Homo sapiens: one gene and its partner. The protein of the gene in region 1 purifies or fractionates together with the protein of each later gene. This does not show direct contact. Each region holds a gene or a part of one and is shown on either strand. Other genes may lie near its edges.

Region 1 (3,823 bases):
CTGGTTTCAAGATCACAGAACTGTACAAACTGACAGTTGTTCACAGAGTCCCTGCACAAGTCACACACCAGCCTTGGCCCCCCATTTTGAGACACCCCAAAATGAAAAGAGGGCTAAGCAGTTCATACCTTTGTTATTTTTTGCATTCTTCATAAGCTCATTATCAGGGCAACTAATAATTCACATGGTGCCTTATTCTGAAATTGGCATCACATATAAAGGATTTTTTAAATATTTTGCAAATGATATGGAATTATCCCAAATCATCCTGAAAACAGCAGGTAAAATTAGCTGGTAGAATGTACCTTGGCTAAAGAAGATTCCCTCTGCCACACTCGTGCTGTAATGTACTGCGAGGCGACCCCAGAAATTATCCCAGTGTGTGCCATCTGTATTAAAATGGTTATTCAGTTATGAACAGGGTAACATAATACTGATCAGCTAATTATACACCCTCCGAAAACCCTCCAGCTCCCTCGGCCTGGCTCAGCCAGGTATTGAAAGCATAGCGATTTGACATTCAGATACCTTCCAAAGGAGCTGGAGAAAGACGCTGGGTGGTTTGGGAGAGGAATAAGCCCTTTGCTTTAAAAGCCAGGAGAGGAGGCTGGGGCAGCTTTGGGCTGAGGCAAGAGTGGCACTTCGGGAGGGGAAGGGGACAAAGCATTGTTTTATGAGCCATGTAGAGACTCAGTCTCTTGGCTGATTGCTGGTCCTGGGCATGAGTTGGAACTGAGATCTCAAGAGAAGAACAGCCAAGGGCCAAGAGTGGCCCTGCTGTGTGCAGTGTTGCTGGGACTGGGTAGTGGTCTTCTGCAGAACATTTAAGAGAAATGCTTGTTGTCAGTAACAGAATTTTCAAGCCTTTGGAGAAACCCAAGTCATGTAGGATTTAGGTAATTTGTTTCTCTTGAATGGGGTAGAGGAGTGGCGCAACAAGTCAGGTGTGGTGGCCCCGTCCAACACCCCCTGCCCCTCCCCTCAACAACATGCACTCCTCATTGGCTGAGATGATTTTGGAAGCTGGCTTAGGCATAAGTTTGGAAATACTTCTATCCTGAAAAGCCATGGAGAACAAGGGCCAGGTGACCCTAGGATCAAGCTCCAGAGGTCTTGAGGTGCACCCACCAGAATTAGGACAAAGTAGACAAGTGAGCCACAAGTGAGATGAGGGTGGGGAAAGAGTAGCCTCAGCTTGACAGCTGTGACAGCTGCAGAACCTGCCCAGCACAGAGCCCTATCACCTGAGGGGCACACAGGCTTCCTTTGGGTGTGGAGAAATAGCCATCTGTGGGCAGATGTTGCTGGAGATGGAGAGGGAGTAGGAGGAGAGGAACAGGTAAGCCACCAACAACACGGGCAGCCTACCCTGGGTCCGTAGTTAGGCTTCATGGCTGGCTTTGTCTACAAGGAGCAGGAAAACTATTCCCAATTTTGCTTTTGTCCAGAATCCTCTCATGGTTCATATTTTGGAAAGAATTCTGGGGGCTTCCCTGTGTGCTGCTGAGTTGGGGCTGGAGAAATCCACCTGGGGAACCACGCTCTCATCTTCATCCCTGTAGGTGCTTTTTGCTCTGAAGAGGGAAGGTTTATCTGAGATGTATTGTTTCACCCAAAAGCCTGATAAAAACAGGATGTTTCTGCTAGTGCTGGTTATATCAGAAACTTTGCCTTTTATCAGTTCTGGGAATTCTCACTCACTGTAGGAAGAGCCCGGAGATTTTCCTGTGTGCACAAAGTGTGGTGCACCGGGGAACGGGTGGTTCTTGAGTTTAGAGCTTTGTTGGTAGTGACCTGCCCACTTGTGTTGGGTACTTTATAACAGTTATGAGTAAGGTTGTGCATGAGCTGGTGGTTGGCAAGAAAAGAAGTCCACACATGCTCACCCACCTGAGCTAGTGGTTTTTCATCTTCTCCTTCCCAAAACAGATGCTGTCGCCACACTTGAAATATGCTGTTATGGTTATAAACTAAATTGCTTTTTTCACTCTTTAAAAATGGTTTTGGCATTCTCTGATTCTGTTGTGATAAAGGCCTGGCCATCCAGCCTGTATTCTCCACTAGCAAATCCTCAGAAATGCCTCTCTGAACCAGAGGACTGGGTCAGGAAGGCCTCCCCACTGCCACAAACCACGTTCAAAAATCCCAAGGCTTGACTGGGCTCCTTAGCATGTGGAATTTATCTGAATCTTTCTAAACATTGGGTTACCAATGGCTGAGCATGGAGTTGCCAGCTTTTTGGTTTGTACACCGCTGCTGTAAAGGGCAGGTGTTTATAAACAGGGGACTTTAGATTGAAACCTGGTGTGGGACATGGCCTGGAGAGGGGAGAGGTGGAGGGAGATCCATGCTACTGAAAAAGGAAAAAGTCGTCTAGTTACATAGCTGAGCAATTGTCTAAGCAGGAGGGATTTTCCTGATTATATGCCAAAATCTTCTGGTTTGGCTGTTACTCTGGGCAGAGAATACACCTCCTTTGAAAGAACAGGCACAGACCCCAAATAGAGTCTGGGGTTACTGACAATCCCCCGAGGGTGCTCTTTTGGGAAGAGCTGACAATAAGGGTGTCACCTTCTAACTTTTTTAGCTTGCCTAACACTCTTTGGAGTCAGGGCACTCTCTGCCCCTAGATCTTTGGAGTGGACCCTGGCAGAATCAACTTCTCACGGATCTCCCACTATCCACACTCTCTCTTAGCCTGTTAGGCTCTAGGTGAGTACATTCATTCTCCTAGCAGTGGCAACCCAGGGCTGTGTTAAGGAATTCCATCCTGTATCATTTGGGTGTCCCTCTTCTGTCATTCTCAGGTCTTTGAGTCATTCTCAGGTCATTGTTCCCCTTGGGTCAGGCAGTGGGGTGACAATGGTCTACTAGTTGTTCGTTCAAAGACCTTTCCAAATAAGCTGGGAGCTATTAATCCTAGCCCCGTGAATGTTGAAGATATGTTCCGGGCTAGGGTCTGTTTCTCCCTCTCTGAAACTCAGGTTCCAGAACATTGCCTATTCTACTCTTGGACCTGGCTTGGCATGAAGCTTGGCCAGAGGGGTGGTACTGCCTACCACATCTCCATATCTTTGTAGCTGTTTGGTGGTCAGGGCTGTTGGTCTCATGGCAAAGAGACAGGGCAAGTTGGAGAGTTCAGAAAAAGACTTCTATCCACAGAGGAATGGCAGAAACAAGGACAGGGAACTCACCTTCTGTGGCCTGAGCCTAGCAGATTGGGCCCACAAATAGCAGACCAACATGCCAATTTCTGTCAGAGAAGCCTCGCTCACCTGTCCTTTCCCAGAGACAGTCCCCTACTGTGAGGTTACCCATCATTGGAATAACATTTGAAACAGGCATGATGGTTGAAATTCTCATTCCTTAAAATGAGCTGGAGTTGTCCTCCTGAAAAGCCTCTTTTTGTTTTTGTAGTTGTTTTAGCCTGGGCTTCCTGGCCCACAGTCCTGTTGGTCTGACTGTCTCCCTGTTGGCTGGTTCTGTGGGTGTTCAGGCTACAAAAGGGGTTTCTGGTGAGAGCAATTGCTGCTTGCCCTGCCTTCCTACCTCAGCTGGCAACTCTCGAGAAGAGGCAGACAGGAGGCACTGGGCCTGACAACAGCTCCAGGTGCATTTCAGAAGGTGACGCAAAGAAGAAAAGAGAGGGAAAACCCAAAATGAATAAATAAATAGTGTCCCAACTGTTCTGAGAACTCAATAAAACAATCACATCAAATATGAAGAGGCATAAATCTTGTGTCTGCACAGGTAACCTACTCAATTGCTTTTATTATCGCTCAGGCTGCCTCCATTTATTACCGTTCATGGCCTGGGCAAAGGA
Region 2 (3,823 bases), on another chromosome or scaffold:
CTTTGTTTACACAATTAAACTTCATTATTTATGAAATAGGGGTTTGCTAAGTAAACATAAACTTCAGCACAACACTATGTGTGTATCACAAATTCTGACTTCTTGAGGGTTTACAGTATGCTAGTGCTTTCAGTCCTCTAGGGTTTTACAATCATAAGACCCACTGATGTGTATGTTGACTTTAGCTAATGAAGCCATTCAGCATTAGGATAGTGATCTCTCTTTTGAATGATATTATCTCCATCTTAAAAGTTGATTTAGGATCAGCTTTTGGAGTGAGGAGAACAATAAGGGAGATTAAAGGTTGGCCTCTAACCCTTAGAATCTGAGGTTCTTTGGTGCTTCATTTCTAAGAGGATATCGGCATCCTCTTAAACATGATTTGCAGCTTTCAGCCTTCTTGTAGCTCCCTGGGAGAGGCGCTAACACTGATCTTTGCGTCTGATGTAAGTTCTTCCAGAGGCTCTTAAGCAGGAATATCTGACTGAGACTTGCTGTTCCCACACACTCTGTCATTAAATAATTTCCATGTGTGTTGTTTTAGTACTTTGGCCGTGTTTGTTAATCTACTTTCCTTTCTGTATCTCCCATTTAGTGTCAGAATGCATACTAAATTTTTACAGTGCTCATGCATAAATCCGTAGACAAATTATTTTATTGCTATCTTTACAAAATTAAAACATAATATGTGTACATATTTATGGAATCCATGTGATCTCTGGATCCATGCATACAGTGTATAATGATTAAATCAGGCTATTTAGGATATCTGTCATCTCAAACATTTATCATTTCTTCATGTTGGGAATGTTTCAAATCTTCTTTTTTTGCTATTTTAAAATATGTAATATATTGTTGTTAACTGTAGCCACCCTGCTGTGCTATCAAATACTGGAAATTATTCTTTCTGTCTATTATAACTGTATGTTTTTACCCATTAACCAATCTCTCTTCATCTCCTCACCTCCCCACCCTCCCCCACCTCTGACAACCCCTTCGATGAGATCAACTTTTTAAGCTCCCATGTATGAGTGAGAACATGCTATATTTGTCGTTTTTATTGCTGTCTTGACACTGCGGAATAATCTTTCTGGAACAAAATTTAGAAAAAAACAATTTCTGAAGATTTTAAAATTATCATTTACTACAAATTACATCTAGTTTATTTATGGGTAAGCAAATTATGTTAACTATGGAGCCATATGTATTCAATAGAAACTATAAATCTTTGCCTAAATATTGCATGAGCTTAATAAATTGAAAATAGTTTATGTAAGGTGGAACCTCTAAGTTTCCTGTTAATAACTCAGGTCTATGAATTGTATCCATTACTGTGATAGGAAGCCAGACAGATTGTTTACTTCACTTGAGCCCCTGAAATACTCCTTCTAGCATGTACCCCACTTCCAGTGTCATATAGAACATGGTTCTAATAATAAATTATAAAACATGCGGTTACTGTGGGATTTCTTACCTCACATTTTTTTAACCTTTGGTGTGCCTCAAGCCACAACAGACATAGCTACATTTTAGCTGTCCAAATAATTCAAGCCATCAGGCACTTAGTTACTCATTGGATACAAGTATTTTCTGTGTAAAGGATGTTACAGTGTATTATATAACATGAACAATCTATCAGAAGGCTGATAGATAATCCAGAAGTTTGGAGCTGTTACTAGTCATGTATATACTGATGTATTTAATTTTTAGTCCAGAAAGGGAGATGTTCATTGTGTATTCCGTGGTTACTTCTCTGTGATAAAGCTTGTACCTCCTAATCATACTTTCTTAAAAATATTTTAAGTTAATCTTAGCCTGCCTAATATTAAAATACAATTCAAAGGGTAGTGAACACATTTAGAATATTCATTAAAAATGAGGGGTAAGAAAACTTCCATAAAAATCTGCAATCCCTTTGGAATTTTATACTCAACTTGAGGCAGATGGGAGAGAGGAGGAGTTTAAGTAGACCACGTATGCTTAGAGTGCATCTCAGGGGCTCTAGAATTTTGTTGCAAAGCCCCAGAGTACAATTTCGTGTGAGCTTTTGAAGGGCTGATTAAGACAGGTAAAGAAATGGAAACTATTCTTAAGGAGTTCTTTGACACCAACCTGCCTGGTCTCCACTTTGCACATTATCTCTACCTATGATTTTGCTTCTGCAGCAGTCCCTGTTTAGAATGACCTCCCTCTAATCTCTTACTCATTCTCCAGAGTCCAGTGCCAGCTATGGCTTTTCGCAGACTTCTTGGACAATTCAAGCTGGTATTGGATTCTTTTTCCCTTGAAATTCTACAGCAGTTTTGGATCATGTCATTAATTTGGACAGTTTCATTTTCATCTATTTTGGTATTTATGTGTTTCGCATGAATGTTTTACTTACCCAGCTTGTTGCCCAATATTTTTATTAAGGGCAATATATGAGACTATTTTGTACACATTGCAGCCAACACCTGCCAGCAGTGGACACAGTCAGTAATTTGTTGAATGAACAAATTTTCAGCGAACAGGTTCATTTATACCTCTTCCTCTGCTTTTAACACGTTTTTGAACTGTTCATCTTTGCTAACCATTCCAGTCTACCAGGGAAGAAGTTTGGAGGAGAAAGCAAAGAAGGAAGGGAACTCACAATGGTTGAGCACGTGTTATACACTAGGCATGATTCTAGGCTCTTATCACTACCTATTTCATTTCATCCTCAAAATAATCCTATGTGTCCGGTTATTATTACTCCCATTTTACAGTTAGGAAACTAGGGCACATAACTTATAATACAGAGGGAGTTTAAACTAAAAGGCTATTTATCTCTCAAGACTCTGCTGATTCTAACACAATATGCTGCCTCACAGCTTTGTTCATGATATCTAAAATTAAATTTAAAAAATGTGAACAGATGTAATTATACAAAATATCATGAGATATTTTGATAAAGACATACAATGCATAATAATCACATCAGGGTAAATGGGGTATCCATCACCTGAAGCATTTATCCTTTGTGTTACAAACCAAAAATTATTATTCTATATTATCAACATTAATATCAACATTAATATTTGAGTGGATTAGAAGTCATGATATTAATAATTATTATCATATCCTAACTGGGAGGCTGTGAATAATGATTTTTGCTTTTTTTTGTGAAACGGTTCTCTGTTTATTTATTTAACAATGATTTGGTTTTCGAGAGCCTAGGTAGTGCAAAGCAGCTTGTTTGGTGTTGCTGAGTGATAGGACTCGTATATTCTGTTTCCTCCAAGGCATTTTTAACTAGCAGAGTGACAGATGTAATGTCAACTAATATAAAGGAGTGAGTAAAGAAGGTTGAGGAATAGGATTCGGGAAATTGGTAACCAGTGATTATAATCTGATTGCCTCAAATTTCCAAGCTTGAACGTTGCTAAGGTGAGCAAGTTTTCAGGTCCTACCCAGGTTGTATGGTGGGTATTAGAGGCTTAAGGTGAAGAAAGTTCTCTCTATCTTTGACCAGAGGCATGAAAGATTCTCGATTATTACATTTGAATAGAGGTCAGAAATACGAATGTCATTCCCAGTGCTTCTTTGTCTTATTCCTCAGCGCCCATAACCCAGGGAACTGGAGTCAACTTCCCAATTGGAGAAATCCCAAGCCAACCATACTATCATGACATGAACTCGGGGGTCAATCTTCAGAGGTCTCTGTCTTCTCCACCAAGCAGGTACTGAAAGAAGGGCTGCTCATATTCTCAAGTGATACACACATAGGTTCGTAGGTGGATGATAGGCAGATAGATAGGTAGGTAGGTAAAGAGAGATGGGAAATAATTTTTGCTGGTAGTACACA

The links.
Region 2: the proteins of PAX2 (region 1) and NFIB purify together in Homo sapiens (co-immunoprecipitation; one large-scale study listed by IntAct). This does not show direct contact.

The regions. Positions count from the first base shown.
Region 1 is NC_000010.11:100,751,795-100,755,617, forward strand, and holds part of PAX2 (paired box protein Pax-2), read left to right. Parts: intron 1-3,823. UniProt on the Homo sapiens protein: Transcription factor that may have a role in kidney cell differentiation. Has a critical role in the development of the urogenital tract, the eyes, and the CNS.
Region 2 is NC_000009.12:14,150,020-14,153,842, reverse strand, and holds part of NFIB (nuclear factor 1 B-type), read left to right. Parts: intron 1-3,577; coding exon 3,578-3,698; intron 3,699-3,823.